Homo sapiens: one gene and its partners. The protein of the gene in region 4 interacts with the protein of the main gene of each other region in a pairwise test. Each region holds a gene or a part of one and is shown on either strand. Other genes may lie near its edges.

Region 1 (3,500 bases), on a different chromosome or scaffold from region 4:
ACAGCAGTTATTGTACTTTGTTGAAATTGTTTAATTTGTCTGTCTCATCTGCTATAAGCTCCATTAGAGTAAGAACAATATCTGTCATGTTTAATATTATATTCTTAGTTCCTGGTACAGTGTGGTGTAGTGGATGTTCAATAAATATATAAAATGAGTGTCCTAACCCTGCTTGCTTTCCTGTTAGGTACGAGCTGAGATTGCCAGCAAAGAGAAAGAGGAAGAGGAACTGATGGAAAAGCCCCAGAAAGAAACCAAGTAAGTAAATATTATGGAAAGGTTGAGAATTTAGAAAGGTGGGACCTAAAGTTAGAGCACATTTAGCAAAAATAAAACTTTTTTGTCTTTTCAGGAAAGATGAGGATCCTGAAAATAAAATTGAATTTAAAACACGTCTGGGTGAGTACAGTTTCTATACTAGTGACTATGCATTCTGGATGAATTGTACGGAATTTAATGCTCTGGGAAGGATATGCTTCTCCTTTCCCCCAACCTCCTTTCTTCTTTCTTTCTTTTTGAGACAGTGTCTCACTTAATCGCCCAGGCTGGAGTGCAGTGGTGTGATCATGGCTCAGTGCAGCCTTGACCTCCTGGACTCAGCCTCTTGTGTAGCTGGCACCACAGGCATGTGCCACCATACCTAGCTAATTTTTTTTTTTATTTTTTGCAGAGATGGGGTTCTCTGTGTATTGCCCAGGCCGGTCTCAAACTCCTGGGCTCAAGTGATCCTCCTGCCTTGACCTCCCAAAGAGCTGGGATTCTTTCTTGCCCCCAAAACAACTAACTCCCATAAAATACTCTAATAAGACTCAGACATAGATTTAATTATTTCATATGTCATTTATGTCTCCTCAGGTAGATTGAAAGATTTTTCAGTTTGGGGCTTATGAGTTAAAAGAAGTAACATGGTTAGTGATTAAAAGTTCAAAACTTGGAGTCAGAGAGACCTGAGTTTAAACCTTGATGATGAAACAGCACTAAGTGTATGATTTTAGGCAACTGACTTTGCTGTTTGTTCATCTGTAAAAATTGGGTTACTATTTACCACATGACTTTATTGTAGGGATGAAGAAAAATGAAATCTATAACATGCCTATCATATTGAGCAGGTAGTAGAGCTGTTTTTTCCATCATCATCAATATTACCTTAAACTTCATCCTTCTTCCTCACAGGACTTAATACAATACAGGTGCATAGTGCCCTTGAAGAGGCAATGTAGAAGAGTGGACAGGAGCCCAGGCTTTGGAGTTACATGGCCTGGTTCCATTCTTTGCTCCATTACTTAGTAGATACATGACTTTAGGTAAATTACTTAAATCTCAGCCATAGTATTCTTATCAGTAAAAAGGATAATAATATCCACTTCATAGGGCTGTTGCAAAGATTAAATGACGCAAAGCTTGCATAGCACTTGGCATGGTGGCTAGCACAGAGTAAGCACATAAGTGACAGCTGTTCTTGTAGATCCTGGCTACTTGCTGCTCTTCTCCTTATTGTAGGCCGCAATGTTTACCGAATGCTTTTTAAGAGCAAAGCATATGAGCGGAATGAGTTGTTCCTGCCGGGCCGCATGGCCTATGTGGTAGACCTGGATGATGAGTATGCTGACACAGATATCCCCACCACTCTTATCCGCAGCAAGGCTGATTGCCCCACCATGGAGGTGAGTGAATGGAATCCTGAGAGCCTATCATGTGAGCCTCAAGCCTGGGAATCAGCCTGGCCTCTGCCCCGTGTCCCTTGTCCACCATGTCACCAAGTGCTGTTCACTTTTACCTCCTAAATCTCAACTGAATCCATTCACTTTTCCACTTTTTCACCAATAACATTCCAGTCTAAGCTATAATCATTTGCTGGAACTATTAACTTACTATTTTTTTAGAGACCAAGTCTCACTCTGTCACCCAGGATGGAGTGCAGTGGTGCTATCTTGGCTCACTGCAAACTCCGCCTCCCAGGTTCAAACGATTCTCCTGCCGCAGCCTTCCAAGTAGCTGGGACTACAGGCATTCATCACCACACCTGGTTAATTTTTTTATTTTTAGTAGAGATTGGGTTTTACCACGTTGGCTAGGCTATTCCTGACCTCAAGTGATCCATCCGCCTTGGCCTCCCAAAGTACTGGGATTACAGGCATGAGCCACTGCGCCAGTCCTCTGGAGCTATTAAAAAGGCTTCTAATTGGTTTCCGCACTTCCACTCTGGTTTCCGCACTTCCACTCTGATTTGTTATTATATCTTGTTATTGAGGTGTTATTCACATGCCATATAATTCATCCTTTAAAGAGAATTTTTTTAAAAATTTTTGTGGATATATAGTAGGTATATATATTTATGAGGTACATGAGATGTTTTGATACAGGCATATAATGCATAATAATCACATCATGGAAAATGGGGTATCCATCCCGTTAAACATTTATCTTTTGTGTTACAAACAATCCATTTATACTCTTTTAGTTGTTTTAGAATGTATAAATTATTACTGCCTATAGTCACCCTGTTGTGCTATCATGTAGTAGGCCTTATTCATTCTTTCTATTTTTTTGGTACCTATTAACCACCCCTACCTCCCCTACCCTTCTAAAATATACAGTTTGGCTGGGTGCAGTGGCTCACACCTGTAATCCCAGCACTTTGGGAGGCTGAGGTGTGAGGATCACTTGAGGTTAGGAGTTCAATACCAGGTGGGCCAACATTGTAAAACCTGATCTCTACTAAAAATTAGCCAGGCGTGGCGGCATGTGCCCGTAATCCCAGTTACTCGGAAGGCTGAGGCATGAGAATTGCTTGAACCCAGAAGGTGGAGGTTGCAGTGAGCCAAGATCGTGCCACTGCATTCTAGCCTGGGCGACAGAATGAGACTCTGTCTCCAAATAAATAAATAAAATGTAAATTTTTGTCTCACTACAGTTTAGAAGCTTTTAGTAGTATCTCATTCTTAGGATAAAGAGCAAAATCTTTACCATGACTTTGAGCCTCTGCAACATCTGGCCTTTCTAGAATGTTCTAGACTCCTGACTTTCTTGAATGGTCTTGATTCATTTTGATGCAGGGCTTTTGTGCAGGCTGTTTTATCTCTGGAATATCCTTTCACAGCACTTCGTTTCCCTCCCTTCACCTACTGTATTGTAATTCAGTCTTTAGTTTGTTAAGTGAATGAATGAATAAATGAAGAGATTTCTGCTGAGTGGTTTAACATTCTTGTTTCTTGGTATTTTCAGGCCCAGACCACACTGACCACAAATGACATTGTCATTAGCAAGCTGACCCAGATCCTTTCATACCTGAGGCAGGGAACCCGTAACAAGAAGCTTAAGAAGAAGGATAAAGGTACCTGGAGGGTTAGAGAGAGAAGCCTTACCCACAGAGGACGTTTGGGGATAAAACCAAGGTCTCCTGGAGCTTTCTGTCTCCAGAATATTGAGAGGCTCCTGGGAAGCAGAGAAAAATGGGAGTACTGGAGCATTGGCAAGGAGACAGTTACAGCCAGATTCTG
Region 2 (4,063 bases), on a different chromosome or scaffold from region 4:
CAAAAAAAAAAAAAAAAGCCACTTGAGTAAAGGAATAATACAAGATTGATAAGACGAGCGTAGAGGGAACTAAGAACAAATATGTGCCCAGGCGCGGTGGCTCACGCCTGTAATCCCAGCACTTTGGGAGGCCAAGGCGGGAGGATAACTTGAGGTCAAGAGCTCAAAACCAGCCTGGCCAACATGGTGAAACCCCGTCACTACTTAAAAAAAAAAAATAGCCGGGCGTGGTGGCATATATCCGTAATCCCAGCTACTCGGGAGGCTGAGGCAGGAGAATCGCTTGAGCCTCGGAGGTGGGGGTTGCAGTGAGCCGAGATCACATCACTGAAAAAAAAAAAAAAAAGGCAGGGTGGGCACATCACCTCAAGTCAGGAGTTCAGGACCAGCCTGGCCAACATGGCGAAACCCTGTCTCTACCAAAAACAAAAAAAATTAGCTGGGTGCAGTGGCGCACGCCTGTAGTCCCAGCTTCTTGGGAGGCTGAGGCAGGAGAATCGCTTGGGCGGGGTGGGGGTGGGGGTGGGGGTGGGGGCGGAGGGGCGGAGTTTACAGTGAGCGAAGATCATACCACTGCACTCCAGCCTGGGTGACAGAGCGAGACTCTGTCTAAATAAATAAATAAATAACAAATAGGTGGGTGGGACCAGATTATGGGTGGCTTAAAATCCAGGTATACCAGCTGTCTTCCTGGAAATAAAGAGGAGCCACTTTAGTTTTGAGAATGTGGTCTGAGCCAGGTAGATAAACTGGGAGCTCGGGCTGAAGTGTAAGACTTCAGAAAGATGTTCCATACGTGAATGTTCATTTAAACGTGGGGGTGTTAAGCAACACACGTGACCCAGAGACATTTCACCTGGAAACCGGAGTAGGGCCCACGCACCAAGTCCCTGATGTTTAATTGCAGTCTAGAATGTTACTGACTAGTTCACTCAATTTAACAAAGTGTCCGGAGGTCGCTCACTGGATTGTTATGCTGGTGACTGGGCCTTGTTTCACTGAGAAAAAAAGATGGGAAAGGGTGACAGGACGGTGAGAAAGTGAAAGGGAGAGAGGTGGGAAAGGGGTCTGCCAAGGTCCAGGCGAGGTTGGGGGTCGGGGGTCCGGCGGCCCTCAGGGCCCCCCCCGCCCCCAACTCCGGGGTTGGCGCCTCGGGCGCGGCGCGTGTGCTTGCGGGCGGGGCGCCCCGCGGCCGCGGACGGCCAATCCGGGAGGGCGTCCGGGGAGGGGCGGGGCTTGCCGGCTCGGGCTCCGCGAGTCCTCCTTTTTGCACACACACGAATACAAAGAGCCATACGACCTTCGGGTATCCTTTTTCCATTTTTTTTCCTCCTTAATCTTGTGTGTGTTTTCAAATTTTTTAAAAATAGAGATCTGTAGCAGTGTTGGGGTGAGGAAACTGTTGCTAAGGGGAATTTGCTCTTTCCCCCATTTCTTTTTCTGTCTCTCTTCCTCTTTCTTTTTCCTGGTCAAGGTTTTAAATATACCAAGAAGTTGAGAAGCAGGATGGCCGTGTACAACCGTTTCCGGCCAAATTTATAGTTTTTTTTTCTTTTTTTTAAATCACATTTTAAGAACTGGTAGATTTTTGTGGTTGAGGGACTTTAAAAATTTAGCCGCTTGGGAAGTACAGAATTTTTTAAGCGGGCTGAAGGGATAATGTAAATTTCTGCCACAGGCAACATCGAAGGAAGCAGAGAGATTTGAGGCTCCCTCATAAAGCCGTTTGCGTGCTTTTTACACACCCACCCCCCCAGAACCAAAACCAAGTGGCTGGGATGTGGCACTTGTCCAAGGCCAATAAGTTAATATTGGGATATTATAATGGAGACATTCATTTCCCTAGGGAAGGGGGAAAGACCTTAATTACAGTGTGTCTTTCACACACATTTTCATTAGAACATTTGTGTGTGTGTGTGTGTGTTTCTTGAAACAAATTTGTAAAGTTATAACTTGGGGTTATTTGTGTATATGTACAATATGTGTGTATATGTGCCATATCAGATTTTATTTTCAAAAGTGATAAATATATCTGGTTTTATGTGTGCAAAGTATCCCCTAGGATGTGAATTTTTTTCCGTTGTCTTCCCAAATGTGATCAAAATATTTTGTGTGCAAAGCAGAGCTTAGAAGAAATCCTATGCTTAGCATACTTAGGCACTTTCTATGTGCATTTACTATATTTTTCTGCTCCTAAAGGATCAGAATAATGAATAATTAAATAATTGCCAAGGAGTATATAGTCCATGTGGCAAATGAGAGTAGGCAATTTATTGAATCTGTGGTTCAAAGCCTTCAGTGACTGTTTTGCCTAAGTGGTTTTGCTTTTTATTGTCTCACGTTCTTAAGTGTACAGCTGTGTATATTTTGGCCTTTATGTGTGGTTTGGTTGGTGTGTTCAGAAGGGAAGTTCTTTCTTGGCTTTTTGACAAAATGGTCGTTTATTGGTTGGAATATTCGAAAAGCTCCACAGCTGGCAAAGTATCAGGAAAAAAATCCAGTCAAGTGTAATTCTCAAAAACTGTTCATGGTGATGGTGATGGGGAGCCAAGAGGATGCAAAGGCAAATAATAGAAGGGATAAGAAATGCCTTTTGGTTATCATGTTGCATTTTTAGAATGGAAAGCTTCTCATTTCTAAGAGTCACAGAAAAAAGTATATGAATTAGAGAAAAACAGGCTCGCAGAGCAGAACCTCCTGTTATAGGAGCCCTATTTTCACTTCATTCTGTTACAGAATCACTATCTCCTCATTAGAAGTTGTATGGAAAATATCTGTATCCAAATTTGTATTCGCAGATTGGAGTGAAAGCATAGGAGGTATATGAGGTGCTGAGGGAGAAACTGGAATGTCACAAATGCAGTGACAACCAGGAGACAAAAAAAAAAATCTACTGTAGAATTTAAATTTCATTACAACAAAACTTCTGTATAATAATGCATTTCTATTACACAGCTAGCATCCTACTCTATTTCAAGCAGTATTTGACTCCTAAATACTGACTGCAATAAAGTTACTTGTACAAATTTATAACAAAAGTGGCCCTGTTTGGGCTTTCTGGGTTTCTTACTTGTGCTGAGTGTATTTTTATTCTCTAACAATTCAAGTCAGACCAGTGCTTAATAAATACTGGCTCGACTGTGGATTATTCCACAATTTCAGACCTGCATTTCTTTGAAATCTAGTCACATTTTAGTGATCTTTGTGATCACAACAGTGATGGGAGTTTTTTTTTTTTTTTTTTTTTTTTTTGAAACGGAGTTTCGCTCTTGTTGCCCAGGCTGCAGTGGCAATGGTGCGATCTTGGCTCACTGCAACCTTCGCCTCCTGGGTTCAAGCGATTCTCCTGTCTCGGCCTCCCGAGTAGCTGGGATTACAGGCATGTGCCACCATGCCGGGCTGATTTTTGTATTTTTAGTAGAGACGGGGTTTCACCATGTTGGTCAGGCTGGTCTCCAACTCCTGACTTTAGGTGATCCGCCCGCCTCTGCCTCTCAAAGTGCTGGGATTACAGGCGTGAGCCACCGCGCCCGGCCAGTTACGGGAATTTTTAATGGAGTTTTACCCTTTTTAGCTCTTTTCCACATCACTACAGGTCATCACATATACTTTTTACCTTACTTTTTAGCGTCTCAAAAAATAGGGAGAGCTCTCCCTGAACAGTGCAGAGCCCGTATCCCTGATTTCCTAGGCTATTTGATTTCTACATCCAGGAACGTAGGGTCATATCCACTGTTCTTGCTTTTTCTTCCTAAGAAAGGAGAGAATTCCTCGCACATATATATCGTTGGCTTGGCCTTCCAAAGCAAAGCAAAACTAAACTCTGTTGATTTTGCCTGGGAATCCTCGGGGCCCCTAGTATTGGAAACTTCTTTGAACTGTGAGGAGCTGCTAATTTGCAGGTGACATGTGAAAGAAATGTAACCGAGGCCAGCAGTAACTAAAAGTCGGCCACCACCCAACGTGTGACGCCGATTTGTGGCCACTGTGCTTATAATCGTGTACACACAGGTTTGTGAGCAGCAGAGAACAAAAGCAAGTAAACAAAAACAAGCTAAAGATG
Region 3 (3,500 bases), about 140 Mb from region 4:
TTCTTATACTTTTTAGTTTTAAAATAATTCTTTCTAAAATGGTAATAATAGACACTTACTTTGAGAAATTAAAAGTTAGCAATCTTATTTTAACCCTCTCAGATTTTTCAGAAACTGTAGGGGACAGTAATGTAAAATATCCGAGTAACTTCGATTAGAAAAATAGCATGCTCGCCGGGCGCAGTGGCTCATGCCTGTAATCCCAGCACTTTGGGAGGCCGAGGCATGTGGATCACCTGAGGTCGGGAGTTCAAGACCAGCCTGACCAACATGGAGAAACCCCCATCTCTACTAAAAATACAAAATTAGCCGGGTGTGGTGGCGCATGCCTGCAATCCCAGCTACTTGGGGGCTAAGGCAGGAGAATCACTTGAACCTGGAGGCGGAGGTCGCGGTGAGCCAAGATCATGCCATTGCACTCCAGCTTGGGCAACAAGAGCCAGACTCTATCTCAAAAAAAAAAGAAAAAAGAAAAATAGCATGTTATACCAAGCGCTAATACAATAATGTTCTATGAAAGAAAATCATTTGTAAAGGGGGACTTGATTGGTTTGCTTCATTTTTGTTTAATAATTCCATTACATGACTGACTACTGCATGCCAGACTTTGGAATATAGTGTTAAGTACCACAATCGTAGTTCTAATATGAGAGAGACATTAAACAGTCATTCATATAAATAAATGCTGTACATAATAATGACTATAATAAATGGAAGACAAGAAGAAGTGCAAAATGGTATGTGGTATGTTAGGATTCCCAAATTAGAGTTGGGTTCAAGGAAGGTATGGTTGAGGAAGTGAAATTTCAAGATAAGCACAAGAATGGGAGAACAGTAGTCTCTCTTCTCTCTTTTTTTTTTTTTTTTTTTTTTTGAAACAGATTTTCTCTCTGTTGCCCAGGCTGAGTGCAGTGGCATGATCACAGCTCACTGCAGCTTTGACTTCTCAGGCTCAAATGATCCTCCTGCCTCAGCCTCACAGGTAACTGGGACTGCAGGCATGCATCAGCATGCCTGGCTAATTTATTATTTTTTTAGAGGTGGGGTCTCACTGTGTTGCCCAGGCTGGTCTCAAACTCCTCTCAAAGTGCTGGGATTACAGGCATGGGCGTCCACACCTGGCCTCTTCTTAAAGAGTCTCCCTCCTCTGACTAGTAACTGGCTACTCTCTGGGTTAGGATTTGGAGAAATACTAGCAGAATGTGTGGGAAACATCTGTGTCACAACCCTTGCTATTTTCTCCTTAGCAGATGGGTAAGAATTGTTTTGATAGGCCAGGAATGGTCACTCCTGTATCCCCAGCACTTTGGGAGGCTGAATTGGGAGGATGGCTTGAGGCCAGGAGTTTGGGACCAGCCTGGGCAACATAGTGAGACACAGTCTCTCCAAAAAAAACGAAGAATTGCTTTGGCTCAGCCCTAAGTGGGGATAACATACCTCTTGAAAGTCAAGACCCTTTATTCAGAAAAGATAATAGAATTTTATAGTGACATGTATAAAATAAAAACAAGTTGAAGGTATCCACTTAAATGTGTTTGCATGAAACCGTTGATTTTTTTTTTTTTTGAGATGGAGTTTTGCTCTTGTTGCCCAGGCTGGAGTGCAATGGCGCGATCTCGGCTCACTACAACCTCCGCCTCCCAGGTTCAAGCAATTCTTCTGCCTCAGCCTTCCCAAGTAGCTGGGATTATAGGCATGCACCACCATGCATGGCTAATTTTTGTATTTTTAGTAAAAATGGGGTTTCTCCATGTTGGTCAGGGTGGTCTCGAACTCCTGACCTCAGGTGATCCGCCCACCTCAGCCTCCCAAAGTAGTGGGATTATAGGCCTGAGCCACCATGCCCGGCCAAAACCATTGATTTTCAAATAGTGTTTTTCACTGGGCCAACATAAAAAGATGAAGTTCCTCAGGAAACTAGCTATTTAAAAAATTTGAGGGGACTGGATAAGAAAAAGTAGGGAAATTAAAATTTGAATATTTGGTTATTCTTTTATGTGTCTGCATAGGAACTTGACCTGCCAATTTTGAAAGTGGCTGCTCCAGAGATTGTGTCTGGAGTATCCGGAGAGTCTGAGCAGAAGCTGAGAGAACTATTTGAGCAAGCTGTGGTGAGTCAGTTAATGACTAATGCCAGGTGGTCAGACGCTACCAGCTTATATTAAAGATCCTGCTTTTTCTGATGCTAGTATTTGTTAACCCACTCACTGGCCATTCTTTTATTAATATAAACATGGTAATTTGCTATGCATGATGGCTAAATATTTAAAGTAGATTTAGTGATACCAGCTGTTGGATAAATAACCCTTTTCATTTGAAATCAAACATAAATGTAATTGGTGAGAAATTCTGGGCCGTCATACCCTGTAGTCATATGTTGAAAATATATTATCCTTATGATATTTTCCACTCACTTTTACTTTCCTCAACTTAAGTTTGGCCAAAAAAAACTTGTAAGCAATGTAAAAATTGTTATTTAGGCTATTATAAAAGCAACCATAAAAATACCAGAATAAATTCTGTCATTCCTTACTAGTAAACTAGGGCAATAATAATACCCAAATCTCACGTGGCTATTGAGAGTATTAAATGAGAGAATTCTTATAAAACCTTCGATATGGTGCCTTGCACACAGCACAAGCCCTGTAAATATTAGCTGTAAGATTATTCACACTTGAACAAATATCACTGTGTTTAAAACTAAAAAATGGTGAAAAGTTTATGTCATTATTAGCAATGACAATATATAGTAGCTGATGAATATCCAATACAACTGTTAGAAGCCTGTGTGAAATTAGAAGAGAAATTATATTTAAGCAGTAATTGAGAAAAAAAAAACATTTTAAATAACAAGAATGGGTAGGCCATCTACTTAGTTATGGTGCGGGCTGACGTTGAAAAAGCTGTGGGCAACACTAGGAGGATAAAGAGAAAAAAGGTGGAAAGGGCAGAGTGCAGAGCAAAGCTGAACTTTCTCAGGTGCTACCTGTTTTCCAAAACGCGGTGGATTCCATTGTTAAATTGGCACGCATAGCCAGAGACAAGTAGTAAATTTTGTGCGTATGGTAAACACGATGAATAAGGATAAGAGGCAAATGGCATCTTTAGGTTGTTAGTTCTGTGTTTAAACCTCTCACTAAACCAGTACTGAGCCAGTACAGTACCTCACAGTAGATGCTCAGTAAATATGTGGCCTAGCACCCCGCTTTTCCTGGTCCCCTCTTCGCTAATGAGAATGAGTCCAGTAAAGCATGTGGATCAGGAAACAAAAAGGTGAAATCCAATCAAGTGATACTTGGTTGAAAACTATGCTTTCTTTAGGCCACATTCTGATGACCATCATTTATTCTTTTTTTTCCCCCATTCAACTTTCCAGGTCACTGACAAGTACTGATGTGCTTGTTTTCTGGTGCTTTTGGCCTCTGTAATTTTACTCCTTTGTAACTGGGTAATATATCTAGCAGTCATAGGCGTCTTTTGCAAACATTGTCATAAGGATG
Region 4 (3,500 bases):
GACAAAGCAACAAAAGATCCATCTCGAGTTGGAGATTCTCAGAATCCTCTTCTGAGTGATGGAGATTTGTCTACCATGATTGGCAAGGTAATAAGTCCATTTGGCAGGAAATACCAATTGCAGAGTGACCATAGACCTGAGAGTTTGGGAACTTTGCAAAAGTATCAGTCACTGCACCAGTGGGGAATCTTGACCTGTCTAATAAGATTTGCCAGTAATATCATTGTGAATGATGGCTAACTTGTGTGTGTATTCCATCTTAAAGTGGGGAAGACCATTAAATCAAAATTATAAAGCCTTTATATCAGGCCTTTTTTCATAAATGACATTTTCTGTACACACAAAAAATGAGTGTAGTGTGGCCTTCATGAGTTAATATTGATATGTTCTTTGAATATCAAGAATGTCTTCTCAGCTGGGCATCATGGCTCACACCTGTGATCCCAGCACTTTGGGAGGCCAAGGCAGGCGGATCACAAGGTCAGGAGTTCGGGACCAGCCTGGCAAATATGGTGAAACCCCATCTCTACTACAAAAAAAAAGGAAAATAGAAAAATTAGCCAGGCTTGGTGGCGGGCACCTGTAGTCCCAGCTTACTCGCGAGGCTGAGGCAGAAGAATTGCTTGAACCCAGGAGGCGGAGGTTGCAGTGAGCCAAGATCGCGCCACTGAACTCCAGCCTGGGCAACAGAGTGAGACTCTGTCTCAAAAAAAAAGAAAAGAATGTCTTCTCTTTTCTCTCTATACCACTTAAGATAAATGGGAGGTTAGTGTAACCTCTTTTCTGATATTAGTGAATTTATGACTTACCTAACTTTACATTCCTTATCTGTAAAATGAGAATAAGAGTACTTATAGAGTTTTTGAGGGTTTCATGAGAATGTATGTAAAGTATTTATATAACATGTATTGTATACTGTGTGCTCAGTCAGTGGTAGCTGCTATCATTGTGTAAGGCAATAGTATAGTTTTCTTGGCAGCCTGATTCTCACTCTGTTATCCGAGTTGGAAGTAATAGTGACGGTATTACTGAGGGCTAATCAAGGAAGTATACACCATTTTATAACTTCATGTATACTATTGCATAGTCTCTTTTTTTTTTTTTTCCAAAAAAGTCTTGTTTAAAATCTGTCTGGCTGGGCACAGTGGCTCATGCCTGTAATCCCAGCACTTTGGGAGGCCGAGGTGGGTGGAGATCAGGAGTTCAAGACCAGCCTGGCCAAGATGGCGAAACCCCGTCTCTACTAAAAATACAAAAAGTAGCTGGGCATGATATGATGGTGGGCACCTGTAATCCCAGCTACTCAGGAGCCTGAGGCAAATAATTGCTTGAACCCGGGAGGCGGAGGTTGCAGTGAGCTGAGATCGCGCGACTGCACTCCAGCCTGGGCAACAGAGTGACACTCTTGTCCAGGCAGGTCTTGAACTCCTGGTCTTCAGCAGTCCTCCCGCCTCAGGCACCCAAAGTGCTGGGATTACAGGCATGAGTTTACCATGCCGAACCCTGTATAGTCTGTTTTGTTTTTGAGACGTTCTAACACTGTCGCTAAGGTGGGAGTGCAGCAGTAGCTTGATCTCGTCTCACTGCAACCTCCACCTCCCAGGCTGAAGCGATCCTTCCACTTCAGCCTCCCAAGTAACTGGGACCACAGGTGTGGGCCACGACACATGGCTAATTTTTGTATTTTTTGTAGAGACAAAGTTTCGCCATGTTGCCCAGGCTTGTCCCAATTCTTGGGCTCAAGTGATCCACCCACCTCGGCCTCCCAAGGTGCTGGAATTACAGGTGTGATCCACCATCCCTGGGCAAGATAGAAATATTTTTAAGCTGCTAGATTTATCACATAATAAATTTCTATGTGTACTTGGGCATATTTCTCAACTTTCTATCTTTTCCTGTCCTGGTCCAGTTAGTCAAATGCCATACAACACTGTTTTAGTATTTAGTAGCACTAGTTTTCCCTCATTGCTCTTTTTCAGCATTTTCTTCGCTAGTCTTTTCCATTTAAAGGTTAAGTTTGTTTCATTTTTTAAAAAAATTTAGGTTTGTTCACTTGCATTTTTTGTACCTTTGGAGTTGATTAAATGATTTTCCTCTTCAGCTCTATTAATATGATGTTTTATGTTATTAGATTCTTTAATATATTTGTGGAACAGTCTCCACTTGGTTGATATTACTGCCTTTTAATACCCTGTTGGATTCTGTTTCCTGTGGGGTTTTTTGGTTTTCTTCTTTTGAGACAGGGTCTCTTTCTGTCACCCAGTCTAGAGTGAAGTGATGTAATCATAGCTAACTGCAGCCTCAAACTCCCAGGCTTAGGTAACCCTCCTGCCTCAGCCTCCTGAGTAGCTGAGACCACAGGCGTGTGCCATCACACTCGGCCTGTTTTGTTTTGTTTTGTTTGAGACAGAGTTTCGCGCTTGTCACCCAGGCTGGAGTGCAATGGCACGATCTCTGCTCACTGCAACCTCCGCCTCCCAGGTTCAAGCGATTCTCCCGCCTCAGCCTCCCAAGCAGCTGGGATTGCAGGCATGTGCCACCACGCCTGGCTAATTTTGTACTTTTAGTAGAGGTAGGGTTTCTCCGTGATCATCAGGCTGGTCTCACACTCCCGACCTCAGGTGATCCGCCTGCCTCAGCCTCCTAAAGTGCCAGGATTACAGGCATGGGCCACTGCGCCTGGCCTGTTTTTTAATATTTAATATTCTCACTGGGGTTTTGGTCAGATTCATTTGCAAATTGACACAGGGAAAATTGGCTTCTTCATAATAAATCTTGTATTCAAAAATTCATAATGCCTTTCCATTTCCTTAGGTATCTTATGTGTCCTTCAGGAGATGTTTGAAAGTTTTCTTCATGAACGTCTCACATGTTTCTCAAGTTTATTTCAAGATTTTTGTTGTTGTTTTAATTGAAAAATTTGCTTTCCTTGTCTTTTAAGTTGGTTGATTGTACTTATGAAGGGTATTGATTTCTATTTATCTTGACCTTGCTGCTTTAATGAATTATTTATAGCAGCTGTTTTTTAGTGATTTTCTTGCATATTCCAGGTGTATAAAGGTACTATCTGCAAATAGTTTATCACATCCTTTCCAATTTTGTACTTCCGGTTTTTCTCTTGCTTAATACTATTGGCTAGTTTTTCCAATCAGTGTTACAAAATGGTAGCAGTAGGAGGTACCTTTGTCTTGTGATTTTGGTGATAATGCTGGTAATGTTTCTCCATTAATCATAGTACTTTCTTTGGGCAGAGGAGAGTGGTTTTCTAATGTAAAGAAGTACTCATTTGTAGCGTCCTATGAGTTTTTATCAAAGACGAATTTTGATTTTGTTCATTTGCCTTTTTAGCGTCTTTGGAGATGATCATGATTTTTCTTCTTACATCTATTAATATAATGTTTTACATTATTTGATTCTCTAATATCTTGTGGAACAATCTCTAGTTGGTCATGATATACTACCTTTTAATATGCTGTTGGATTCTGTTTTCTAGTATTTAA
Region 5 (3,500 bases), about 71 Mb from region 4:
CCGGCTAACATGGTGAAACCCCCATTTCTACTAGAAATACAAAAAATTAGCCGGGCGTGGTGGCATGTGCCTGTAATCCCAGCTACTTGGGAGGCTGAGGCAGAAGAATCGCTTGAACCTGGGAGGTGGAGGCTGCAGTGAGCCGAGATTGTGCCACCGTACTCCAGCTTGGTAACAAGAGCAAAACTCTGTCTCAAAAAAAAAAAAAAAAGCCTCAACTAAGAGCACAGTATAAAACAACTGGGCTAGGGGCTGGAAGAAAAAGTTATGAAGTACAGAAATTTGAACCCAAGGACCACATTTGCTGAGCCTGTTATATATGCTACGAAAGTTTAGCAGTTACAGTTTTTTGAAATGCAGCTGGGCTTGAGCTTGGGAGTGGTGAGCAGGGACTGAAACACCAACCTAACAGGTCTGTAGAAAAGAAAAAATAAAACACCAAAACATCTAGTGTTTATTGTTAAAATTATGAGTAACAAATATAGACAATTTTGGAGGCCTTACCACATTAACATAAGGGCCAGAGGGTATCACAAGCTCATCAAGAAGTCCCCAACAGTAAATCACCAAGATCTAGAGTAGGGGTTTGCAAATTTTTTCTGTAAAGGGCCAGATAGTAAAAACCTTAGGCTTTGCAGACCATACGGAGCTCCACCACAACTACTCAACTCCAGTATGTAGAACAAAAGCAACTCATAGACACTACATAAACGAACAGGCATGACTGTATTCCAATAAAACTTTACAAAAACAAGTGGCAGGCTGGATTTGGCCTGCAATTTATAGTTTGCCAATCCTTGACCTAGCTAATGGTCAAGCTCCAAATCAATAGTATACTTTAACTCCTCTAGAACCCTGTGCCTTTCAACTAAACCCAGTGAAAAATATGAACCACTTTCCTTTACAAAAGATGAATGAATGGCAGTGATAAGAACATATGGAGCAATAAAAAAGCATGTTGAAAATCTCACTTATCCTTCCTCCAATCACATCAACTAGAATTTAGCCTGTTATCCTGACCTTCAAGGTGCTAAGGAATGCTGGACTCTGTGCTGCCCAACTATATCCATTTAAAGGCGGCTTCTCTAATTTAAAAGTTGGCTCAGAGGTGAAGAGCTGGTTAAATAACCCAGGTGGTAGTTATACTCTATTAGAATTTTTATATTCTGCCTTCAAATCTGCCCTAAAGCCAGTGATTTGACACTTGGCAGCACTGGTCCTGAAAAGAAGGAGGAGGGAAAGGAAGGAAGGAAGGAAATAAATGGAAAGAAGGGAGGGGAAGTAAGGAAAGGAAATAAGGAGGGGAAAGATGTCCCACTCCTAGTTGGGTTGTAACTTCATCCCTTATGTAATCACCTTTTTTTTTTTTTTTTTTAAAAAGACGGGGTCTCGCTATGTTGCCCAGGCTGGTCTCAAGCTCCTGGGCTCAAGCGATCTGCCTGTCTCAGCCTCCCAAAGTGCTGAGATTATAGGCATGAGCCACCATGCCCAGCCATGTAATCTCTCTATCAAACTACTACTTACTGTGGAAAGGGACCTCTCAATATAACTGGGAAGCTCATCTTCCCTAAAATTCCCTTGTTCCTACTAGCCATTAGATTTTATTTTTCTCCTTTACTAACAGCATTTCCTAGGTTCTGCCCATCCTTATAGCTTTATAGAACTCCAAACCACTTGACCTCTTAGAAGTACAGCTCTGTTATTGATATTTTGAAAATGATCAGATAAAATCAGAAGAAGCAAAAGCATAATATAGTCCAAGGTGTTTCCTGTGTAGTTTCCTAAACTCAGAACAACACAGGAAAGTTTCCCTCTCTCCACTAAAATCCAGGCCTCCACTCTATCTTGCAGGGAGGAGGACAACCTCAGTTGATAGTAAAAATAGCTTCACCTTCATTTTGGCCCCTTACCATTAGCTAAGTCTGTTCTGCCATCTGTGCTGCTCCCTTTGCTGGACATCTTGAATGATGTTTGCTGTAGCCAGCCTGGGTTTGGGAGAGGAAGAAACCAAAACAATTAGGAAACCACCTGGGAAAGAAGACAATAGGGACAAGGAGATTTAACAATGTACAGGTTTTATCATTTTTATAAAAATGATTTGTGTATGCATGCTTAACAGGTCTTCTCAGCTTGTGAAATTTTTTCTTCCTTATGTTTTCTTCCCTATGTTTAAAATCCATATAATGATATATTTTTGGGGAGGTCAAGTGCCATCTCTTTACTTCACTCACTGAGTAACTGGCAGTGATTTTTCAGATGCGAAAGTGGGAACTAAAATAAAACCTGGAACAGGAGGCACATATCAAATGACAGGTACTGCAAGCCAAGAGTCTCAACTCAATACATAAAGCTAACTTCAGCATTGCCCCCTAGGCAAGAATCTTCCAATGTAAATAAGTGACATATGTATCCTCAAACTCTGTACAACACTTGTTTTCACAACATAAAGAGGTGGGTCAGATTCTGAGTATCATTTTACACACAAATCAACAGAAATCAACCTCTTGGGGGAAGAGATTGAGCTTTCTGTTCACTCAGATGACTAACTTCAAACCTATTATTATTATTCTTTCTTTTTTTTTTTTTGAGACAGAGTCTCATTCTGTCGCCCAGGCTGGAATGCAGTGGCGCTATCTAGGCTCACTGCAAGCTCTGCCTCCCGGGTTCACACCATTCTCCTGCCTCAGCCTCCCAAGTAGCTGGGACTACAGGCGCCTGCCACCATGCCCACCTTTCTGTATTTTTAGTAGAGATGGGGTTTCACTGTGTTAGCCAGGATGGTCTCGATCTCCCGAGTGATCCGCCCGCCTCGGCCTCCCAAAGTGCTGGGATTACAGGCATGAGCCACCACGCCCAGCCCAACTAACTTCAAACTTATTAAAGGCACAGATACTAAGGATTATAGAGCTGAAACTAGAAATCAGGAGCACCCTATCCCTAGGAAAGAAGCTTAAGTTGTTTTGTTTCCCTTAGGACTAACAGTCAGAGTCTCTAAGCACAAAGACAAAGGTGGGGAAGAAAAAGGCAACATTTCCATTAAACCATCTCATCCCATTTCATATAATGGCAAACACTGTTTCACCTAACAGCACCAGCTTTCACCAGACTCATCTTTCCTTAACAAGGAATCAGGGTATCTAACTCACTTCCTTTTATGCCACTATAAAACATTCATATTTTTTTCAGAGCCTCACTGCCACCTCCAGTAAATTCCAAAGAGCAAAGAATAATATTATTCAGACCAGAATTTTATTAAGCCCTTTCAGTGACTTGGACAAAAGGCACTAGTAAAAGACAAAGTATAATTATGACCCCAGTCCTTGTACCCAGGCACACTGGCCTCTAATCTTTCAACAGCCCTTTCATTCCCATGACAATTATTCCAGAAGCAGCCTCATCCTTATCTTTTCCTCCGCTACCCTCTATAGAAATCTAAGCTGCTTCATTAAAAGTATCCTCTGTCAAAAGACAGTAGCCCAAAGATTGTTCATAATAGGCCA
Region 6 (2,292 bases), on a different chromosome or scaffold from region 4:
TGTCTTAGTTTTCAATTTTGTCTTAATTATGTTGTTTTTCCTTTTATAGTTTTATGGACAAGATAAAAATGATAGCTATTGAACAATAATCCTGCTTTTTCTCTAAAATCTGTTAATGTTACATCATCTGTTCCAAGCATTGTACCTGCTCTTTCTCATTCTTCATGATCAGTATATGGCTCTTAGAAGCCCCTTCTGTTCTTTTTACAGATTTCAGTTTATTTCGAGGATCAGATTAATTCTATGTGTACAAGCTCATGCCCTTTCTTTTTATATCTGTCTTTGTTTTATGTCCTTCAAAAAATGAGCCACATTAGAGAACACCCTACTAGCTTTTGAAAAATATACATTCCCTTTTGTTCCGCCTTGGCATCATTATGCTATTAGACTATTTATTTTCAGGTCTTCCAAATGCTGTTGATCTCTACTCTGTGTTTTTAATCACGTGTCAGAGTTTTCTTCCTGATATGTTTTTGACATTTTGAAATTGAGGCTAAACAAGTTTTCTTCCTTTGACATTCAAAATAGTCAAATTTCTTTGAAGTTTTGTTTCTTTTATGTCTTTCATTAGCACTTTTCTCTTAAAACTGATTGATACATTGTTGAATACTATAATTTTTACCAAGAAACTTTCAGTAGTAAATGTATTGATAATTAGATTTCACATCATTACATGTTGCCTTTTTATTGCTTTAGAAATAGAACATTATATATTTGTGGCTTACTGTTTTTATAATACACCCCCACAGTGCCATTATGTACTCTTGTGTTTCTGCCTTTAGGTTTGTGGATTTCTATAGGTATATAAATCTATTTTTGTTGTTTTTTCACTGTTGTTGTTTTTTGCCTGAGGTATATAAATCTTGATGCCTCCATTAGTGAATAAGATTTTTCTTTTTATTTCCCCATTTGAGTCATGAGTTCTTTCTTCACTAAGATTGTTGCCACATTGCCAGTGGTGTCAAATAGAACTTGCTGTAGTGATGGAAATGTTTGAGAAGCTGCTGTATAGAAGCAATCAGTTACATTTGGCTACTAAGCACATGAAATGTGGCTAGCACAGCTAAGGGACTGAATTTTTTGTTTTATTCAATTAAAATAGCCACATATGACTACCATATTGAATAAAACAGCCTCGCACAATCCTTGCTTTAAAAAATTTGTCTTGATTAAAAGACTCACACAAAGTTATTCTTCCTAGTCTTTTCTGTAAAGTACATGGAAACCCTTAACATAATATCATAAGTCATGGTAAAGAATGGAGTTTACTGTTGTCTGATGTTATTTGGTCCTAATCCTATTTAACAGTGGAGAGGCATCTCAGACTCTAGTGTGAATCAGATTGCTGGGGTTCCAACCCCAGATCTGCCTCCTATTTAGCCATATGAACCTTGGGCAACTCACTTAGCCTTTCTGTGACCTACTTTTGTCACACATAAAACTCAGATGATAATTAGTGCTTTACTGCTAGAGTTATTATAACGTTTAAGTGATTTAACATGTGTAGAGTGCTTAGACTGTGGTGTGTGTGTGTTAAATAAAAACTGTCCATGTCGCAGGCCCCCCACTTTCCACATTCGTCTTTCTCTTTCCGTGTAATTACCTTTAACAGAAGTAGAAAGAATAAGGCCACTTTGTTCTTCCAGGTAACTCAAAGTCATTCTGATTTTGCAGCTTCTGATATCATTTGTTTATGTATTAAGAGAAATAGGTAGTAGTATGATTTTTCTCAACCCTATTTCACGTCTTACATAAAAACTCTAAGAAGCCAGTATAGGCCAGGCGCAGTGGCTCACACCTGTAACCCCAGCACTTTGGGAGGCCGAGGCCGGTGGATCACGAGGTCAGGAGATCGAGACCATCCTGGCTAACATGTTGAAACCCCGTCTCTACTAAAAATACAAAAAAATTAGCTGGGCCTGGTGGCGGGCGCCTGTAGTCCCAGCTACTAGGGAGGCTGAGGCAGGACAATGGCATAAACCTGGGAGGTGGAGCTTGCAGTGAGCCGAGATGGCACCACTGCACTCCAGCCTGGGCAACAGAGCGAGACTCCATCTCAACAACAACAAAAAAATCCAGTATAGTTCCTGATTTACCAAATCAGATATAGCCATTGTCATAAAGCTGAGTAGTTTCTTGGATAGTAAGAGGACTTTTCAAACCTACTAGTGGCCATTAGTCTTTTTTCTTGTTTTGTTGCACAAAGACTGCTGCTGTTTTCGTTTCAGATAGTGTATGTTCACTGTGTATGTCGTATGATATTAACAGTTGTGCTGAGGTTTTCTATTTTTG
Region 7 (3,500 bases), on a different chromosome or scaffold from region 4:
AACTGGCTTTTTTTTTTAGGAGTCTCAAACCCCAATGAATTTAGAATGTTAACCCTGCTGCCCTCCACTTCCATCAGTATGGATTATTAGACTATTTCTCAAAGCAGCTTTGACAATAAGATTGTTTAGTGTGGGTATGTAGATGAGAAACTGAGGCTAGGAGGAGGAGGCTTTTTTTTTGGTTTAAAATCATGGTGAATGGCTTCAAATTCAGCTTGGTTTTGATATTTATATTGGTGAGTTTTCTAATTTATAGACAATGTGGTGATTGTATTACTTTTTAACCTGGTGTGCTTTGTAGTGTGCCAGTGCTCTTGAGCCAAGCGTATGGTTTAAGAAAATCAGTTAAGGGTATAGGCCTTGAGCATTGTTGTAGTGGTGTGGAAACAGGGAAAGCCTAGAATATGGAAAAGGTTGGTATATGGAGTTAGCTGTTTAAGACAACCATGAATTGGAGGCTTTCACAGATCTAGCTGTGAGTGAATTGAGTTTGATCTGTAAATCTAGTTTTTCCATAAAAGTGGAGTATAGTTGTCTCCATTGTAATTCAGTTGTAATCAAGTTTGCATTGGTGAGCTAGAACTAAAGTTTTTAAACTTTTAGTTTGTGACTTTTAGCTTTCAGTTTTTTTTGCAAGGGGGTGGCTTAATTTTTTGTTTGTTTGTTTGTTTGTTTTTGGGAGACAGAGTCTTACTCTGTCACCCAGGCTGGAGTGCAGTGGCGTGATCTTGGCTCACTGCAACCTCCACCTCGCGGGTTCGAGCAATTCTCCTGCCTCAGCCTCCCGAGTAGCTGGGACTACCGGTGGGTGCCACCAGGCCCAGCTGATTTTTGTATTTTTAGCAGAGGTGAGGTTTCACCATGTTGACCGGGATGGTCTCAATCTCTTGACCTCGTGACCCACCCACCTTGGCCTCCCAAAGTCCTGAGATTACAGGTGTGAGCCACCATGCCTGGCTGCTTACAGTTTCAATGAGAGCTAAGTTGTGGTAAAAAGGCATAGAGACATTTTTAGAGGAAGTTTGACAGAGGGAATAAGTTTTTCCTTTTTGTTTTTATGGATTGACAAAAAGTGTTATTTGGGTCTTAACTATTAAGGTTAAAAAATCCGTTTATAGCATAGGGATTACATGTGAGAAAATGGAAAGATGAGCTATTACTCATTTAGTTTATGTTATAGATGTGAGCAAGTTTATGAATGTTTTTATTAATTACAGTATTTTTCATAAACAGTTAGTGTCCTTTGAGTAGAAAATGTTAAAAATCTGTCCAGTAATTTTCAGAGACTGAGGTGACCCTAGATTATGCATTTTGATAAATTTTGTCAGATAGCTAGGATTAGTCTGTTTTTATTTCAGAATGTCCTAGCTAATAAAATTGGTTTTGTTTAGAAAACCACTTTTGTGCTTTGTGGTTGAGACAGTGGAGAAGGGGAATAATTCTTGACTTTTTCCTTCAGATAATGGAGGAGTGTACCTTTTTTTTTTTTTTTTTTTTTTTTTTTTTGAGATGGGGTCTTGCTCTGTCATCCAGGCTGGAGTGCAGTGGCGCGATCTCCGCTCACTGCAACCTCCGCCCCTCCAGGTTTAAGCGTTTAAGCAGTTCTCTGCCTCAGCCTCCTGAGTAGCTGGCATTACAGGCGCGTGCCACCACGCCTGGCTAATTTTTTGTATTTTTAGTAGAGACAGGGTTTCACCATCTTGGCCAGGCTGGTCTTGAGCTCCTGATGTCCTGATCCACCCGCCTTGGCCTCCCAAAGTGCTGGGATTACAGGTGTGAGCCACTGCACCCAGCCTATACTTCTTTCTATACTTTGCCTAGAATAAGGAATAAACACCTAATGCTCTGAGTAAATATGAGTTGTGTAAATTTTAACAGTTACTTTTTGGGAGTTAAAATGTAGAGGTTATGTAACGTTGCAGTTTCATAAAGTTTTTAAAAGTCGTTTTGGCTGTTACTTTTTTCTGAAGGACCCATGCTATCCCATGAAATATGGCACGTAAATGTCAAATAATAATAGGAGATTTTTTTTCCCTGTAGCTCCCAAGTTTCTAGACTTGGTATGGGAAGTGTAATTTCTTCTGAGGTTGGCACAATGCCCAGAATGGCAGTATGTACCTAGGAGTGGGGTTTATAGGGAATTTATTGGGTGAGAGATCCAGATTTGAAAGATGCTCAACCAAATTAGGTACAATCATTTTTTAAGATGGTATTAACATAGTAATACATCCTGTCTTGAAAGTTGCTGATGGATTGGTCTTAACTTTTTGTTGTCCATTAAGCACACTATTCAGTAATTAAGTGGAGACTAGAAAGTAATTTGAACAGGACCCTGGACTTCTGATAATAATTTAGGAGTATAACAAGTACACATTTAAGGGGAAATTTTAAAACAGACATCACAAACCTGTTTTTATAAGGGAACATGCCAAGATAATTGGAAAGATTTGAGCAAGATGGATGTTAACTGCTAAATATATGGGTGTGGTCTAGTGAATTAAATGTATTAATGACGTTTGAACTTTTCAAGGCACTCTTGGAAAGAACAGGCTACACACTTGATGTGACCACTGGACAGAGGAAGTATGGAGGACCACCTCCAGATTCCGTTTATTCAGGTCAGCAGCCTTCTGTTGGCACTGAGGTAAAGCAACTAAAAACTTGTACCTTTTGTAGTAAAAGCACAGGTATCTGGTTTCCTAAAGCAATTCTCCATGGTTTTTACTTAATATTTAATTTACAGATATTTGTGGGAAAGATCCCAAGAGATCTATTTGAGGATGAACTTGTTCCATTATTTGAGAAAGCTGGACCTATATGGGATCTTCGTCTAATGATGGATCCACTCACTGGTCTCAATAGAGGTTATGCGTTTGTCACTTTTTGTACAAAAGAAGCAGCTCAGGAGGCTGTTAAACTGGTAAGTTGTCCTTTTTTCCCCTTCAGTTTTCACGTTCACTGTCTTTAATATCAAGTTTTTTTCTTAGTGTGCCTAAGAGTTTACCAAACATTTTTTGAAGTACTGATTTAGGCAGGTTTTTTTTTTCCCACATCACTGTGCAAGCATTGTAGTGTTATTCTTTGCATGTATAGTTGATAGGATTCAGCATCTAAAAGGCGGCATGGTAGAATTCCTAGCAATTGGTTCTTATAAACATCTGGCTTAGTGACGTTTTTGTGTGTTTGTTTAAATTTATAGGAATGTGAAAAGATTAAGAAAAGTAACTGTGGTAAGAGCTCTCATACTTCCTGGCCATACCTGAGCCATCTCTTTTTCTTAAATAATTCACAAAAGACATTGTGATACATTTCTAGTTGATGAAACAAAAGATTTTATGGTGAGTGGCAATGTTTGATTTAAAAATACCAGATGTTAGGTAAGGACCTGGTAATCTTTCCAACTTTTTTAAAAAGGAAATTTTTCTTTTTTCTTTTCTTTTTTTTTTGAGACCAAGTTTCTCTCTCTTGCCCAGGCTGAAGTGGCATGATTTCGGCTCACT

The links.
Region 1: the proteins of GTF2B (region 4) and IK interact in binary tests that used the Homo sapiens proteins (3 or more experiments, as listed by UniProt).
Region 2: the proteins of GTF2B (region 4) and C14orf93 interact in binary tests that used the Homo sapiens proteins (3 or more experiments, as listed by UniProt).
Region 3: the proteins of GTF2B (region 4) and NVL interact in binary tests that used the Homo sapiens proteins (3 or more experiments, as listed by UniProt).
Region 5: the proteins of GTF2B (region 4) and DCAF8 interact in binary tests that used the Homo sapiens proteins (3 or more experiments, as listed by UniProt).
Region 6: the proteins of GTF2B (region 4) and SEM1 interact in binary tests that used the Homo sapiens proteins (3 or more experiments, as listed by UniProt).
Region 7: the proteins of GTF2B (region 4) and SYNCRIP interact in binary tests that used the Homo sapiens proteins (3 or more experiments, as listed by UniProt).

Annotation. Positions count from the first base shown.
Region 1 is NC_000005.10:140,654,329-140,657,828, forward strand, and holds part of IK (protein Red), read left to right. Parts: intron 1-187; coding exon 188-258; intron 259-352; coding exon 353-399; intron 400-1,500; coding exon 1,501-1,664; intron 1,665-3,225; coding exon 3,226-3,334; intron 3,335-3,500. UniProt on the Homo sapiens protein: Involved in pre-mRNA splicing as a component of the spliceosome. Auxiliary spliceosomal protein that regulates selection of alternative splice sites in a small set of target pre-mRNA species. Required for normal mitotic cell cycle progression.
Region 2 is NC_000014.9:23,007,344-23,011,406, reverse strand, and holds the start of C14orf93 (uncharacterized protein C14orf93 isoform a precursor), read left to right. Parts: upstream 1-1,263; 5' UTR 1,264-1,306; exon of another isoform or gene 1,307-4,063.
Region 3 is NC_000001.11:224,299,173-224,302,672, reverse strand, and holds part of NVL (nuclear valosin-containing protein-like), read left to right. Parts: intron 1-901; coding exon of another isoform or gene 902-982; intron 983-2,009; coding exon 2,010-2,111; intron 2,112-3,500. UniProt on the Homo sapiens protein: Participates in the assembly of the telomerase holoenzyme and effecting of telomerase activity via its interaction with TERT. Involved in both early and late stages of the pre-rRNA processing pathways.
Region 4 is NC_000001.11:88,860,568-88,864,067, reverse strand, and holds part of GTF2B (transcription initiation factor IIB), read left to right. Parts: coding exon 1-87; intron 88-3,500. UniProt on the Homo sapiens protein: General transcription factor that plays a role in transcription initiation by RNA polymerase II (Pol II). Involved in the pre-initiation complex (PIC) formation and Pol II recruitment at promoter DNA.
Region 5 is NC_000001.11:160,242,050-160,245,549, forward strand, and holds part of DCAF8 (DDB1- and CUL4-associated factor 8), read right to left. Parts: intron 1,986-3,500; 5' UTR 1,960-1,985; coding exon 1,911-1,959; intron 1-1,910. UniProt on the Homo sapiens protein: May function as a substrate receptor for CUL4-DDB1 E3 ubiquitin-protein ligase complex.
Region 6 is NC_000007.14:96,690,555-96,692,846, reverse strand, and holds part of SEM1 (26S proteasome complex subunit SEM1), read left to right. Parts: intron 1-2,292. UniProt on the Homo sapiens protein: Component of the 26S proteasome, a multiprotein complex involved in the ATP-dependent degradation of ubiquitinated proteins.
Region 7 is NC_000006.12:85,636,387-85,639,886, reverse strand, and holds part of SYNCRIP (heterogeneous nuclear ribonucleoprotein Q), read left to right. Parts: intron 1-2,530; coding exon 2,531-2,644; intron 2,645-2,743; coding exon 2,744-2,920; intron 2,921-3,500. UniProt on the Homo sapiens protein: Heterogenous nuclear ribonucleoprotein (hnRNP) implicated in mRNA processing mechanisms. Component of the CRD-mediated complex that promotes MYC mRNA stability.